Linked DNA regions of Homo sapiens: all the other regions are linked to region 1. The links come from fine-mapping of genetic effects on gene expression. A gene starts in region 1. Each other region holds a variant in brackets. All regions are shown on one strand. Distances are from middle to middle. Region 1 holds the start of HTR6 (5-hydroxytryptamine receptor 6). Region 2 overlaps TMCO4 (transmembrane and coiled-coil domains 4). Region 3 overlaps TMCO4 (transmembrane and coiled-coil domains 4).

Region 1 (5,220 bases):
ATGCACTACCTACAGATTTTTACAAAGCAACATTTATCAGGCAAAATTTTTTACTCATCTCATTCACAGCTCCACTGCCTTGGTTTCATAGCAGCAGAGAATTTAAGAGGCTTTGCACAACTTCACAGAGCAAGTGGCAGACTCTGGATGATGAACCCAGGATGCTGGGCTCCAAAATCCTTCCACACAGCACCTCTCAGGGTTGCAGCTGTTCACGTCAGAAATCCCTGGGCTCAAGGAGTTAGCACAGAGCTGAATGCATTACGATTGTGCTGATGGGAACACTAAAGCCAAGAGCTAGGTTTTTTTTTTGTTTTTTTGTTTTTTTGTTTTTTTTTTTTTTAGATGGAGTTTCGCTGTTTTTGCCCAGGCTAGAGTGCAGTGGTGTGATCTCAGCTCACTGCAACCTCTGCCTTGTGGGTTCAAGTGATTCTCCTGCCTCAGCCTCCTGAGTAGCTGGGATTATGGGCGTGCATCACTACACCTGGCTAATTTTGTATTTTTAGTAGAGACGGGGTTTCATCATATTGACCAGGCTGGTCTCGAACTCCTGACCTCAGGTGATCTGCCCGCCTTGGCCTCCCAAAGTGTTGGGATTACAGGCGTGAGCCACTGTGCCCGGCCAGCTAGTGTTAACATAGTATCAAAGACACAGATTACATCAGTGTCATTTAATCCCCTCAGCTACTCTGTGAGGTGGGTGCCATATTGTTCTGCTAACTATTACAGAAGAGAAAGCTGTGACCCAAGGAGATGGAGCCACTGGCCCTGTAATCCCAGAGCTGGGATGGAGCGGGGATCCCAAGCCATGTGTTTCTGACTCTCTGCCCAGGCTTGCTGTACTACGTTCTGTTCCTTGGGGGCATGGCAGAAATCGTCACAGTGGTGCAGTGTGGTGGCAAGGAGGAAGGACAGGCCTCCTCTATCTGCTTAAAAGATGCTTCTGTGGGCAAGGCTGGGGCTCTGAGCACCAAATAGCAGCTTAGAGTTGGCGGGTGGGTGCTGCAGGCTCTGAGGTGCCTGAGGGGAGGTTTTTGACCATCTGTAATGGGCTCTCTTTGCCATGGGCATCGAGCAGATCTGGGTTTCAGGTCCACTTCACCACTTGCTGCTGGTGATCTGGGGCAAGGCCCTTGGCCTCTCTGAACCCCAGTTTAACGTCTACCTCTCAGCATTATTGTAGGGGTCGGAATAAATAACTGGAGGAGTAGGAACCGTACAACAAAGCCCCTGGGGACAGCGCAGGAGCCTTCGATTTGGAAAGTATTATTTTTCTGTTTCTGTGGAGAAAAAATGATCCCACCCCGTTCTCTTTATACTACATTTTCTTTTTCTCTTTCTCTTCTTTCTTTCTCTTTCTTTCCTTTCTCTCTTTCTTTCTTTCCTTTTTTTTTTTTTTTTTTTTTTTTTTTTTGACAGAGTCTTGCTCTGTCACCCAGGCTGGAGTGTGCAGTGGCACAATCTTGGCTCACTGGAACCTCTGCCTCCCAGGTTCAAGCAATTCTCCTGCCTCAGCCTCCCGAATAGCTGGGATTACAGGCTCCCGCCACCACGCCCAGCTAATTTTTGTATTTTTGATAGAGACGGGGTTTTACCATGTTGGTCAGGCTGGTCTCGAACTCCTGACCTCAGGTGATCTGCCCACCTCCGCCTCCCAAAGTGCTGGGATTACAGGCGTGAGCCACCTCGCTGGGCCCACTTTCTCTGTTGATTATGCTTATTGTTTATTGTCTGTTTCTTCCACTAGAATGTAAGCTCCATGGAGGTGCGGATCTTTGTTTTGGCCACTGTAGTGTCCTGATGGGTCAGAACAGTGCCTGACATCTAGTGGATGCGCCTTAAAAGATGCATTGAAGTATCTGTTCAATGAATGAATGAATAACAGTATTAACCTGCACAGCAGTGTTAGGCAGAGACTCTTCTCAGCCAGAGGGGAGACGTACAGAGGGAGGTCACACCCAGGGGAAACCACACCCCACGCCTCTGCCTGCAGCGACTCTTAACACACCTGGCCTGGGGATTCTCAAATCTGTTCACGCTCTGTTAGACTAGGAGCGCCAACAGCTCAGGGACTTCATCCTTAGTACCTGGCCCCTTTGGGGATCGGGATGGTTTCTGCGGGAAAGGCCCTGGGGAAGGTTAGCTTCTTGCTCAAACTAACGGTGAAGAATGCCCAGAATTACTAACCCATTTTACAGATATGGCAACTGAGGCCCAGAGGGGTGTCAGGCGATTTGTCCAATATTTCCCAACTCCTGGCTCCCCTGAAAGCCCGGTGACCCCGTTGTGAGTGGGCAGGCACCCATTAGAGAGCAGCCCCTGGATAAGGGCAGGTCACAGCCCCCTGCTCCCAGTTCCGCCTGCGCCGCCGCCACGTGTGGGTTGGGAGGGGCATCTGAGGGTGTGGGGGCTGCCACAGCCCGGGAGGTGACCCCTCGCAGCTGGGGCGCTCTGATCTTCGGCCCACAGGCCCGGGGTGCCGGGACCCCGCCCTCCTGCAGGGCCAGGGCTCGGCTCTCCCCGCCCACCGCGAGGCGGGGCGCACGCTCCGCGGCGCGGGGACCGCGCGCTCCAGGCTGCACCCGGCCTCTCCTCCGCGCGTGCGGGCCCCTCGCGGCGCCTCCCGGGCTCGGGAGACCCGGTCCCGCCGCCCGCCCGGCCCGCGGCCGCCTCTTCCTCTCGCAGCCCCGCGGCGCTTGCCGCAGTCGCAGGCGGCGGAGCAGCCAGAGCGCCCCAGGTACCAGTGCGGGCGGGAGACGGAGGCGACCCTGCTGCCGGGTGGGGAGGGGGCGCCGCGCGGCCGCTGCCCTCCTCTTCCCGCGGGGCCTGGCGGCCCCGGCGAACCCCCGCGCCGCACAGGCCGTGTGCGCCGGATCCCGGTGCCTCCGCGCCAGCTGAGACCTGCCTTTCCCAGGGGCGGCTTTGCTCCGGCCCCTAGGCCCCCGCCCTGGTACCCCACACGCCCACCGGCCGCGGGGAGCCTGCTCCGGCCCGAGAGCGCCCATTCACCCCCCTCACCCACCTCCCCGCGTTCCCACTTCCCCGCACTCTGACCCGGCCGGACGCCCCTCCCCTATCTTGCCGCCCGCCCCCTCCAGGGGGCTCTGCTCCCACCCCAGGGAGCCCATCCGACCTCTGCTTGACTTCCCGCCGCTTCCTTCAGGGGCCTCGGCTCATCGGGTGCCCCTCCCCAAACTTCCAACCCGTTTGCTCCAGGAGTTCCTGCCCCATCCCCGAGGGCGCCCAAATAGCCACACTGTGTCCTCCTGTAGTCGCTGCCCCCTGACCTAGCGCGACCCAGCGCCCCCGCCCATGTCCCCCCACTCACCTCCCCCGGGGGGCGTGGTGAGTCGCGGTCTGTTCTCACGGACGGTCCCCGTCCAGCCTGCGCTTCGCCGGGGCCCTCATCTGCTTTCCCGCCACCCTATCACTCCCTTGCCGTCCACCCTCGGTCCTCATGGTCCCAGAGCCGGGCCCAACCGCCAATAGCACCCCGGCCTGGGGGGCAGGGCCGCCGTCGGCCCCGGGGGGCAGCGGCTGGGTGGCGGCCGCGCTGTGCGTGGTCATCGCGCTGACGGCGGCGGCCAACTCGCTGCTGATCGCGCTCATCTGCACTCAGCCCGCGCTGCGCAACACGTCCAACTTCTTCCTGGTGTCGCTCTTCACGTCTGACCTGATGGTGGGGCTGGTGGTGATGCCGCCGGCCATGCTGAACGCGCTGTACGGGCGCTGGGTGCTGGCGCGCGGCCTCTGCCTGCTCTGGACCGCCTTCGACGTGATGTGCTGCAGCGCCTCCATCCTCAACCTCTGCCTCATCAGCCTGGACCGCTACCTGCTCATCCTCTCGCCGCTGCGCTACAAGCTGCGCATGACGCCCCTGCGTGCCCTGGCCCTAGTCCTGGGCGCCTGGAGCCTCGCCGCTCTCGCCTCCTTCCTGCCCCTGCTGCTGGGCTGGCACGAGCTGGGCCACGCACGGCCACCCGTCCCTGGCCAGTGCCGCCTGCTGGCCAGCCTGCCTTTTGTCCTTGTGGCGTCGGGCCTCACCTTCTTCCTGCCCTCGGGTGCCATATGCTTCACCTACTGCAGGATCCTGCTAGCTGCCCGCAAGCAGGCCGTGCAGGTGGCCTCCCTCACCACCGGCATGGCCAGTCAGGCCTCGGAGACGCTGCAGGTACCTGGGGTGCGCAGGGAGACCCGGGCTGTGGGATAGAGAGGAATGAGCAGCCCCTGGGGACCCCCTGGGCATCCCCACTTAGCACACATTTGCTCATGGCCCTGCGTGGCTGTTGTGAGCGCCCACCTTTCTTCTGAACTCCAGAGCCAATGCCTGACCCACCCACCACAGGATAGCTCCGTCAGGATTTGGGGGCAGGCTTCTCCCAGGTACCATGTACAACAGGGAATTTATGGTGGCCCAACTCTCCCCATCTTTGCCTCCCTGGTCTTCCCCATCATGGCAAATGGCACCATTGCGGCATCACATGCCAGGAACTTAGGAATACTTTTCTCCCTCACCCTCATGCCATTCATTAGCGAGACCTGTTGGCGCTGCTCTAAACAGGTGCCATCTCCCCTGCCACTTCCTACCGGGGAGGCTGTGTAGACTTCTCCTGGCTCCCCTGCTTCTGCCGCAGACCCAGTACTCTCCATCTTCTGCATAGAAGCTGGAGCACTTAAAAAAGAAGTGATCATGTCACTCCCCTGCTTCAGACTCTTCAGGCTTCCCACCGTGCTCCAGATAAAGAAAACCTGTCTCAGGATCTGGCCTCAGGATCCCACACTGCCATCCTCTCCAGTGTCACCTCCCCTCTCCCTCTCTCTTACTCTGCAACAGCCTTGTGGCCTTTCTCACGGTTCTAGAAGGCACTGGGCTTACTTCTGTGCCCAGGTCTTTGCACTTGCTGTTCCCTGTGCCTGGAATGTTCTTCCCCCGGCTGCCTTCTTCCCAGGGGCCATCTTTGACCACCCTATCTGCAGGCCCATCTGCACTCTCCATCCCTGTTATTCTCCATAAGAACAAGTCATAAAAATGACTTGTTCATTTTGCCTCCCTGACTTGAATATAAGCTCCAGGAGGGTCACACATATTGAGATCAGTTTTTTTGCTTTTTTTTTTGTTTTTGTTTTTGTTTTTTTTGAGACGGAGTCTCGCTCTGTTGCCCAGGCTGGAGGGCAGTGGTGCGATCTTGGCTCACTGCAACCTCTGCCTCATGGGTTTAA
Region 2 (5,220 bases), 59 kb after region 1:
AGGGGATCTCCTTCTGAGACTCAGACAGCCATCAGGGCTCACTGTGAGGGCCAGGAAAAGATACGCTCCTGCAGACTATTCTCTCCATATACACCTGTGCTCACCACAGAAACTTCAGCAGAGAATTTGTTTCCCTGGAGCTTAGGCAGACAGTGTGGGCACGTGCTCCATTGCTTGAGAGTGGCAGTTAGTGCTGGACCTCGAGAAAGCAGGATTCAGTTTGCAACACTGTCTCCTGTGAGTTTTCCTAGTGGGACTGCTCAGCTCTGGGTGCAAAATAGATAAAAATTATATTTAGTGGCCAGGCGCGGGGGCTCATGCCTGTAATCCTAGCACTTTGGGAGGCCGAGGTGAGTGGATCGCTCAAGCTCAGGAGTTCGAGACCAGTCTAGGCAACATGGCGAAACCCTGTCTCTTCAAAAAATGCAAAAATGAGTCAGGCATGGTGGCACATGCCTGTAGTCCCAGCTACTTGGGAGGCTGAGGTGGGAGGATGGCTTGGGCCCAGGGGAAAGAGGCTGCAGTGAGTTGAAATTGTGCCACCGCACTCCAGCCTGGGTGACAGAGGGAGACCCTGTCTCAAACAAAACAAAACAAAACAAAACAAAACACAACACACACACACACACGTTTTGGAAAAGTCCAGGGCCAAACCTGGAAATATACTGACCTTCCAGGTACTACTAACCTTGGGACTCTATCTGAGGGGCCAGCGGCCTCCCTGGACATGGCTCATCTCATTGCACATTCAAACACCAATAGCCTTAACAGATTCTCTGGGCAGGGCTTGATGTTTCACAATTTACAAGCAACTGACTCCATGATTAAATTGATCAGTCCTCTAAATTCCTGACTTACTACCCTTCGCAGAGTAGTCCGTTTCCTATCACTAGAAGCAACTAAGCAGAGGCTAGTAGACAGATGGATGATGTCAAGGGGATCCTGTACAGTGTGGAGGTTTGTTTGAACCAGACGATTTCAAACGTCTTTTGGAACCCTGAGTCTAGGAGTCCACAATCACATGCTCATGGGACGAAAGAATGAAATGAGGCCCAGCATATCAGCCTCGATAAGATGTTCTAGCAGTGCCTTCTGGATCATTATCCTTCAACTGAGTGTTAAGTGCCCTTTACAGGAGTCAATGCTCTCAAGGCTGCAAGCCACCTACTGTACAACAGTCTTAGCCAATCACTCAGTATGTACTATGTGCCAGGCTCTGTGCTAAGAGCTTAGATGCGCTATTTTATTTTCCTTAAGAGGTGGGTATCGTTTGATCTACATTAATAATAAGGAAAACTTGAAGAATGTAGGGGACTTGCACAGGGTCATACCGTTCCCATGATCTTAACCTCATGGCATGGAGAATTGTGGCCTTCTGGGTAATTATGAGCACCCAACTCTTTACTCTGCATATACTTTATAGTTTAGGAGTAGAAAGTGTGTCTGCAAATGGCTACAGCAGGTGGTAGGAAAGACAGGCTAGGGAGACACAGTCCTGGAAGAAAGAACCCCTGGGGCACTTTTGTACAAGGGTTTCCCTGGTTCCAAGGGAGCGCTGCTGGTCTGGAGGTGGTGGGATGTCTGGCACAAGCTCTGACCCTGGGGCAAGGGGGCTGGGGGGTGCATCCAGTGTCAGCGGCAGGAACACTGTGATCCTCAGCCTCTCCTCCTTCCGTGCCTGTGTTTCTCTCTGCCCACCTTCTTCCCAGGCCTCCTCCTATTGCTCCTATGGGAAGAGGGGGTGCTGGCCTCATTAGTCAAGCGTGAGGACACTGATGGGACACATGTACTAGTGGGCAGGTTGCTGTACATCAGGAAGCCGGACTGCAGGCTCTCCTCCCTCCTCTGAGCAAGGCAAGTCGCTGGAGGAGGTTAGGGCCACCTTCTCTCTCTCTGGCCCTTATCTGAAATGCGTGGGACCAGAAGTATTTTGGATTTCAGATTTT[G/A]GAATATTTGCATTATTCTTATTGGTTGAGCATCCCAAATCCGAAAATCTGAAATGCTGCATTGAGCATTTCCTCGGAGTATCATGTTGCTGCTCAAAAAGTTTTGGAATCTGGAGCATTTTGGATTTTGAATTTTTGGATTTGGGATGCCCAACTTGTATTCATCTCATATGGGGGATAGTCTCTTCTTTGTCTTCCTGCCTCCTTTCTCCTTCGATGCCACTGGCCAGGACCCCATAGGCCCCCAGATCCAGGGCTGGAGCTTTTGGGTGGCTGAGCCTGCTGTGTGACCAGCACAGCTTCTTCCCTGGGGGTTACTGGGTCCTAGCTTAGGTGGCGTTGAAGTGATGGGTGCCCCAGTCATCATGTAGCTAAAGTCTGCATGCTCAGCTCTCTCAGGGACCCTGTGGGAAGAAGGAAGTAATTTCCAAGGCTAGTATTTGGGCATTTCTGGATTCCTCCAGTCACAGCAACCAACTTCCAACACCAACACCAATCATCACTGCGTTTCAGGGTGCAGACCCTCTTGGTCTCCTTTCCTCACCTGTAAATTGAAGGTTTGGACAATGTGATTTCTGGAGGCTCTTCCAGCTCTGAGCTGGGGCCCTGGAAGCTAAGTGGATTTATCTAGTAGACAATGGGGGCTGGTGGCCAATCTGTGAGAGGAGGGTGAAGCGGGTCACCTGGTGACAATGCCCTGTGGGTTAACAGTGAAGCAGAGAGGTCTGACCCCAGAGGCGAGGCTGGAGCAAGCCCCCAAATTCCTGCCTTCTTTAAATAACAGAGACAACCCACATTCAAGGTGAGATCAAATGCATTTTAGCCGGTGGCAACTGCTAAGGTCAAGGGTGCCTGCATTCCCAGAGGGAAGCAAATGTCTTTGAAAGGCAGTCGGCAGGCTAAGAGTCTTGGAAAGAGCCTGGGGGCTGGTCGGCCTTTAGTTTAGATTAAAGCACAGATTAAATGAATCCCACTTCTGTAACTCACTCCCCTGAGAGCTGCCAGTTGGGCTAAAGACATTACTGCTACATTAGTGAGCTCAGAGACAGTGAGTACCATAGCCTTGGAAAAATCCATTTGGATAAACTAATGGAGAATAAGAAAGGAACACTTACTTGTTGGGAGTCTACTATGTGCCAAGCATTGTGCTGTTACATCCACCATATAAAAAGGCCAGCTTTGTGGTTGGACAGGCTGGAGTTGAACCCAGGTTCACTATTTGTAAATTGCTGCAGCTCTTTGCTGTGCCAAGTCCCATGCTAGGTGCCGATGACAGAGGGCAGAATGAAATGGACACAGTCCCTGCCATCAATCTCCTTATAGGCAAAATGGGAAAATCAATAACTATATCTTAGAGTTGTTTGTATATTAGATGAGGGAAAACAGGCAAAGCCCTTAGCATATCACTTGGCATATAGTAGGTGTTCAATAAATGGTAGTTATTAAATCCTAGAATAACCCCCAGAGGGATCAATATCCCAATTTTACTAATTAGTCTGAAGCCCAGACAGGTGAAGTGACTTGCCCAAGGGTACCCAGACAGTAACTAGTGGAGTCTGGGTTTGAACTGATGTTTCTAGACTCTAAGTTCAGTGCTCCTTCTTTTGTTTTTCTTTTTTCTTTTTTGAGATGGAGTCTTGCTCTGTCACCCAGGCTGGAGTGCAGTGGCACAATCTCTGCTCACTGCAACCTCCGCCTCCCAGGTTCAAGCAATTCTCCTGCCTCAGCCTCCTGAGTAGCTGGGACTACAGGCGCACACCACAATACCCAGCTAATTTTTGTATTTTAAGTAGAGACGGGGTTTCACCATGTTGGCCAGGATGGTCTCAATCTCCTGACCTCGTGATGCACCCGCCTCGGCCTCCCAAAGTGCTGGGATTACAGGTGTGAGTGCTCCTTCTTTCATGTCATTCTCAGCTGGTTGCAATGATCCTTGCATCTTGAAGACACTAGGAAAAGTGATCAAATTGAGCCCGCTTACAGATGGCAAACAGATGGGGAAGCCAGGATTGACTAATGGACCCTAGGGCCCAGAGTGAAGCAGGTCCTGCAGCCTCTATGGTGCTGAATGAAGACACCTGCAGGCAGGCTGGCTCAGCTCAGCGTGTCTTGTCAACTGCATGGACAGGCCCACAGGTCACAGGCAATATGCAATATGTTGAATTAATTCCCTTCAAAGCCTTTTGGATGCAGAGGAGAATAAATGCATAAATAACCTGAAGCAGCAATTGATTTCCTATGGCCATTTCTCAGCTCAGCCAGCTACTACAAGTCAGTTGGAATTGAGTTTGCTTTCCAACTACTTAATTTTTCAAAGACTTTTAAAAGCAAAAATATAGAAAAGATGAATGCCCCCTTGTGATCAGGGCCCAGGGTCCCATAGTGAGTGCTCAGATGCTGGCTGTTCCTGGCAGCAGGCACCACCTCCCTGCCCTTGGCACGCACTGGGGTCAGAAATACCCTTGGGGACAGGGTCAGTCACTCCCAAAGCAAATTCATGCCCTATGCTGGGACTTGGACTGTTGCTAGAGGGGGATTGTTCATTGCTAGGAATTCTGACTATGCTGGTTTCCTGACCAAAGGCACAATCATTTGGCAGGTGCATGTTTTGTCTTGGTTTTGAGTGGGCAGAGTCGTTACCCAGGCTGTGTGTGTGTGCCAGCCGATCAAGCCCGATGGACAGTCTGGAATGGAGCGGGCCGAGCACAGCGTGGTCACTGGGAAGTCTGGGCAATAGATCAACCAGCTGGCCCAGGCCTTGGGGGCTGAGGAGTCCACTTTGCCAAGGCAGTTCGAGCCTTGCCGCACCCAAAGGCCTCGAGCATGGTCCCCTGCAAGAAGCCCTCACAGCAAACTTCATGGCTGCCTTTGTGTCCCTCACGAGTGAATCAGCTCCTAACATGTACTGGGCACCTCTACATGCCAAGGCCTGAGCCAGGGGCTGGTGACACAGAGGGGACAAAACAGACAGTGCCTGGTGATCGTGAGTGTGTGTTTTCCCTTTAAGCATCAGCCACATTCTAGCAGGGGAGAGAGACCTGTGGGCAGATGCATTGTAACCCAACGTGGTGAGCTTGGAAACAAAGATGGGCAAAGCACTGAGAGGGAGCAGGGAGGCAGCTGAACACAGTGCCATGACCCAGGTGTGGGTGATGGCCCTGGGTGTGATGCCTGGCTCGGCCACCTTCCAGCTCTGACTCTGGGCAAATCCCTTCGGCTCTCTGAGCTTAAACCTGGGAGGTGGAGGTTGCAGTGAGCCGAGGTCGTGCCACCG
Region 3 (5,220 bases), 27 kb after region 1:
GGTTATTATCAAGTATCTACTTTGTGCCAAGCCTTTTGCTAAGTTCTAGGCCACCTGGCATTTCTGCTGGGACATGGAGAATCTTGCCGTGGGTTGGATCTCTGTGCCCCAGAAGCCTCATGAGTTGGTCCCTGGGGTGGCAAATCCCCCACCCACTGTAACCTTGTCCCTGTGAGGAGAGACTGAGGGGCAGGAGGGCAGCTTCATTCACCCCAGAGATGCGCCCTGCCTGCAACAGGGCCAGCCCAGTGGGATGATCACAAAGGGCCCTGCTGCGTGGTTGGCCCAGCAGGGAGAAGACAGGTCCTGTGGGTCTCTGTTGGGAGCAGAGGGTGGCCAGCATTTCCCCAACAGCAGTAATGAAACCTCCCTTGCCAGCAACTTCTCCAGCAAAGCATTTTCAAGGAAAACAGGAGGCCAGCACAAAGGCAGTGCTAATTACCTCTAATTACCCAGAAGAGGAAAGCACTGTTTTTTGTGATGTACTCCTAATGTGATAAAGAGCTATTATTAGGCAGGAGCTGGGAAGCTGCCACGAAGACAGCCTGAGGAGGGAGCGGAGTCTCCAAAACTGCTGGTCCCAGAGGCAAACAAACTGGGGGTGGTGGCAGGGGCAGGCCGGGAGGGACTAGGATTAAAGGAGGGCCTACTATGCACCAAGCATCTTACATGCGCTGCCCTGGAAGTTAGGCGTTTCCACCATTTCCTAGATGAGGACACTGAGACACAGAGAGGTTAAGTAACTGGCCCAAGGTCACACAGCCAGTAAACCAGTGGCAGAGCCAGGATTCTAAGCCATGCCTCTCTGGTGCCAAAGGCTGTGCTCTTCCTACCATATCCCATTCCCAGTAGAAATCAGATCTTGTGAGGGCTTTGCAGCATTAAAAGCTACTTTCTTCAGCAGATGCTTTTTATCTCTGATTCTTCTGGCAAAGGGAGACTCCTGGGGTGCTGAGGCACAAAGTCCCTGCTCCCTTTCACCCCATTCAGGGTGCAGGCACCTTGAATAGGACAGAGAGCCCTGGACATGGGTCAGGAGGCATCAGCTCTGAGCCCTGTTGATGGTGACAGGAGGCAGCCAAATGCCTAGGCAGACGGGGTGGGTCCCTGGTGAAACCCCACCTTCAAGCCAAAAAAACAGCCTGAAGGCTGAAAGACTGGACTGCTGGTCCCACATGAAACCTGTGACCCAGAGTGAGAACTTCTGTTCCTGTTTGCCCACACTTCCCCTATTCTGAGCCCATAAAAGCCCCAGACTCAGCCACATTGTGGGGACTTTCCTGCCTTTGGGTAGGGGAACCATCCACTCATCCCCTCTCTGCAAAAAGCTGTTTCATCACTCAATAAAACTCCTCGCCTTGCTCACTCTTCAATTATCAGCGTGTCCTCATTCTTCTTGGATGCTGGACAAGAGCTTGGGACCCACTGAGTGTGGGTACCCAGAAAGGCTGTCATACTGGCCTTTTGCCCTCATCAGTGGAGGGCAGCTGCCCCACGTGATGGGGTCAGGGGCCGACTGAGCTGTTAATACACCACCGTCTATTGGGCCGTCAATGGTGGAACTAAAACAGCTAATTAGCACACTAACGCCCCCTCTGGGGCTTCAGGGTTGTGGGTACCCCTGCCCAGGTGCTGCCACTTTCCCCTCGAGGCAACACGCCTGGTCTGGCCACAGGCCCAGCATGGAGCTTGCTCTTGTGTCGGTGTTTGGAGTGGTCAGCCAGAGCCCACACTTGCTCATTCATGTGCTTCCTCCTGCAAGGGGCTGAGTGTGGTGGACCGAGTAGATGGGGTGCCCCTGCTGCAAGTGTGGCCAAGGGGCTGAGAGAAAATTCCTGTCACTGTGGTTTGCTGGTCTTGTGACTCAGCTTACCTCATTCCCACAGAGAAGTGGGCAGCACAGCTTCCAAGCTGGGCTCAGAGTCCAGACCTACAACTCTGGCTATGACTCCATGCTCCCAAGTCTCAGTTTCCCAATCTATGATCTGGGGATGCTTAATACCTCCTCTAGGGAGTTGCGAGGTTTACAGCATGTGAGCCAAGTCTATCTGTGAAGACTCTTTTTTTTTTTTTTTTTTTTGAAACAGAGTCTTGCTCTGTCACCTAGGCTGGAGTGCAGTGGTACCCTCTCGGCTCACTGCAAGCTCCACCTCCTGGGGTCATGCCATTCTCCTGCCTCAGCCTCCCGAGTAGCTGGGACTACAGGTGCCCACCGCCACACCTGGCTAATTTTTTGTATTTTTAGTAGAGACGGAGTTTCACTGTGTTAGCCAGGATGGTCTCGATCTCCTGACCTCGTGATCTGCCCGCCTTGGCCTCCCAAAGTGCTGGGATTACAGGCGTGAGTCACTGCACCCGGCCCCTGTGAAGACTCTTTAACCAGGAGCAACCAGTTTCATAAATGGATGAGCCTAGAAATGACTCTTATTCTACCCCAGTCCCCAAAGCTCCCAGTTAGGAAGGCACAGGGTGGCTTCATTTGTGATCCTCTGGTGGGTTAGGAATTTTGTCTTAAGGCCCTGGAAGTTTAGGGGTGAAGATACAAGTGAACTGGCCCCAGCGACCTGGTGTCAGGCCAGGTGAGAGGCCCAGGTGACCTCTGGGCAGGGACATGGCTGACAGACTTTATGGACAGCAGCACCTGGTGAAGTTTTGATTTTGTTTTTTTGTGCAATAATTCCCCCATGTTATCAAATGCTCAGTCAAGTCTCAAAACACATGCAGCCCAGTGTGAGCCACACTGTGGTGGCACGGGTGGGTCTGAGGCCTAGCTTCATTGGCCATTGAGATGCAGTGGTGGAGTGATCAGAACAGGCAGCTGCTGATCCTGAATGGGGAAGCCAGAATGCCCCTCAAACCAGGGGATTTTTAGATGCCCAGAAAGGAGTCTAGTCT[G/A]TCTGCAGGAAGCAGCTGCTCAAACAACCATGAGTGGAAACTGGGTGATATGGTTTAACTGTGTCCCCACCCAAATCTCATCTTGAATTGTACTCTCATAAATCCTATGTGTTGTGGGAGGGACCCAGTGGGAGATAATTGAATCATAGGGGTGGTTTCCCCCAACCTGTTCTCATGGTAGTGAATACGTCTCCTGAGATCCAATGGTTTTATAAGGAGAAACCCCTTTCACTTGGTTCTCTTCTCTGTCTTGCCTGCTGCCATGTAAGACGTGCCTTTCACCTTCCGCCATGATTGTGAGGCCTCCCCAGCCACGTGAAATTGAGTCCATTAAACCTCTTTTTCTTTATAAATTACCCAGTCTTGGTATGTCTTTATCAGCAGCGTGAAAATGGACTAATACACTGGGTTACATGTGGGAAGCACTTGGCACTTGATAAATGGCAGCCAGCAACATAATAACTAGAAACCAAAGATTTTGTTCTCAGGGTCCCCTGATTGCTGAAGTCGGCTTGTGCTTGTAGTTACAGCTTATTCCTTATTCCTCCCCTCCCCGCCTCCCCCTATGGAGCACCTCTCCCACTGGTTCTCATATCTACCTGGGCTGGGGCTACATCTATTGGCTTCAGACCTGGGTTTGAGTCCTGCTTTGCCATGTTTCAGCGGTGTGACCCTGGAATGTCTCTAAGCCTCAGTGACCTTGTCTGTACAATGGGGACAGTAATGTCTGTAAAAGGCTTAGGGCAGGCCGGGTGTGGTGGCTCATGCCTATAATCCCAGCACTTTGGGAGGCCAAGGCAGGTGGATCACCTGAGGTCAGGAGTTTGAGAACAGCCTGACCAATATGGCGAAACCATATCTCTATTAAAAATACAAAAAAAAAAAAAAAAAAAGAATTAGATGGGCGTGGTGGCAGGCGCCTATAATCCCAGCTATTTGGGAGGCTGAGGCAGGAGAATCGCTTGAACCTGGGAGGCGGAGGTTGCAGTGAGCCGAGATCGCGCCATTGCACTCCAGACTGGGCAACAGGAGTGAAACTCCACCTCAAAAATATAAATAAACAAATAAATAAATAGGCTTAGGGCAGAGCGGGACATAGAGTGAGTGTCCACATGGGAAGCTATTAATTCCCTAGGATAGCATGTGGCAGGTGAACGAGGTTCTTTCAAGTCTAAAAAAACTGAAGTTGGTCAGGCACGGTGGCTCACGCCTGTAATCCCAGCACTCTGGGAGGCCAAGGTGGGTGGATTGCTTGAGCTCAGGGGTTCAAAACCAGCCTGGGCAACATGGTGAAATCTTGTTTCTACCAAAACTACAAAAAATTAGCTAGATGTGGTGGTGCACACCTGTGGTCCCAGCTACTCAGGAGGCTGGGGCAGGAAGATCACTAGAGCCTGGGAGGCAGAGGTTGCAGTGAGCCGAGACTGTGCCACTGCACTCCAGCCTGAGCGAGACCCCATCTCAAAAAAAAAAAAAAAAAAAAAAAAAAAAAAAAAAAAGGCCAGGCACGGTGGCTCATGCCTATAATCCCAGCACTTTGGGAGGCTGAGGCAGGCAGATCACCTGAGGTCAGGAGTTCAAGACCAGCCTGAGTAATATGGTGAAACCCCATCTCTACTAAAAATACAAAAATTAGCCGGGCATAGTGGCAGGCTCCTGTAATCCCCGCTACTCGGGACACTGAGGCAGGAGAATGGCTTGAACTGGGGAGGTGGAGGTTGCAGTGAGCTCACACCATTGCACTCCAGACTGGGCAACAGAGTGAGACCCCATCTCAAACAAAAACAAAAAGAAAAAGAAAAGAAATTCAAGTTGGGTTTGTGTGGCTGCCCAGCAGGTGCCCTCCCACTCCATTCACTGCAAGAATTCTTTCTGACCATCTGCCCCTGCACCCCAGCCTAGTTTTAGCTGCATGGGAACCCTTAGGAGTATGTTTAAAATGTGGACTCATGGCTCTGCCCCTAGAGACTGATGTAGAAGTTTTGGGCAGTGGGGCCCTGGGCTCTGCATTTTAAAGATTCCCCAGATGTCCCGCTCTGCATCCCATCTTTCCACAGCCTAGCAGGCAGGTGCTTCTGCTTTTGGTCTAGCCTAAAGCCCTCCACCTGTGTCCCCTGCTTGCTCCAGCTGCTTCTCGCAGAAACATACAGTCCTGACTAGTGAGCTGAGATGGGGCTGTTGGGGAGCCCTGGGTGGGGGGGACTCGGGAGTGGGGAACGGCAGTAATACAGGAGCAAGAGTGAGGGCTCTGGAGGTTCAAATCCAATCCTGTTCCTGTTAATTGCTAGTTGTATATCTATGTGTGTTTTTGCTTTTTAGAGACAG

The links.
Region 2: its variant is fine-mapped to the expression of HTR6 in whole blood (TOPMed, PIP above 0.99).
Region 3: its variant is fine-mapped to the expression of HTR6 in whole blood (INTERVAL, PIP 0.99).

The regions. Positions count from the first base shown.
Region 1 is chr1:19,662,297-19,667,516 of GRCh38, forward strand. HTR6 (5-hydroxytryptamine receptor 6) reads left to right here and starts at 2,579. Exons shown (of 3, transcript NM_000871.3): 1 at 2,579-4,171. The coding sequence starts at 3,458. RefSeq lists a silencer at 2,393-2,622 and enhancers at 2,401-3,373, 3,374-4,344.
Region 2 is chr1:19,721,208-19,726,427 of GRCh38, forward strand. The region is part of intron 13 of TMCO4 (transmembrane and coiled-coil domains 4); the gene reads right to left. Among named protein-coding and RNA genes, the nearest start is that of HTR6, 59 kb to the left of the region's middle. The variant G/A (reference allele first, on the strand shown) is at 1,947.
Region 3 is chr1:19,688,807-19,694,026 of GRCh38, forward strand. The region is part of intron 15 of TMCO4 (transmembrane and coiled-coil domains 4); the gene reads right to left. Among named protein-coding and RNA genes, the nearest start is that of HTR6, 27 kb to the left of the region's middle. RefSeq lists an enhancer at 242-756. The variant G/A (reference allele first, on the strand shown) is at 2,896.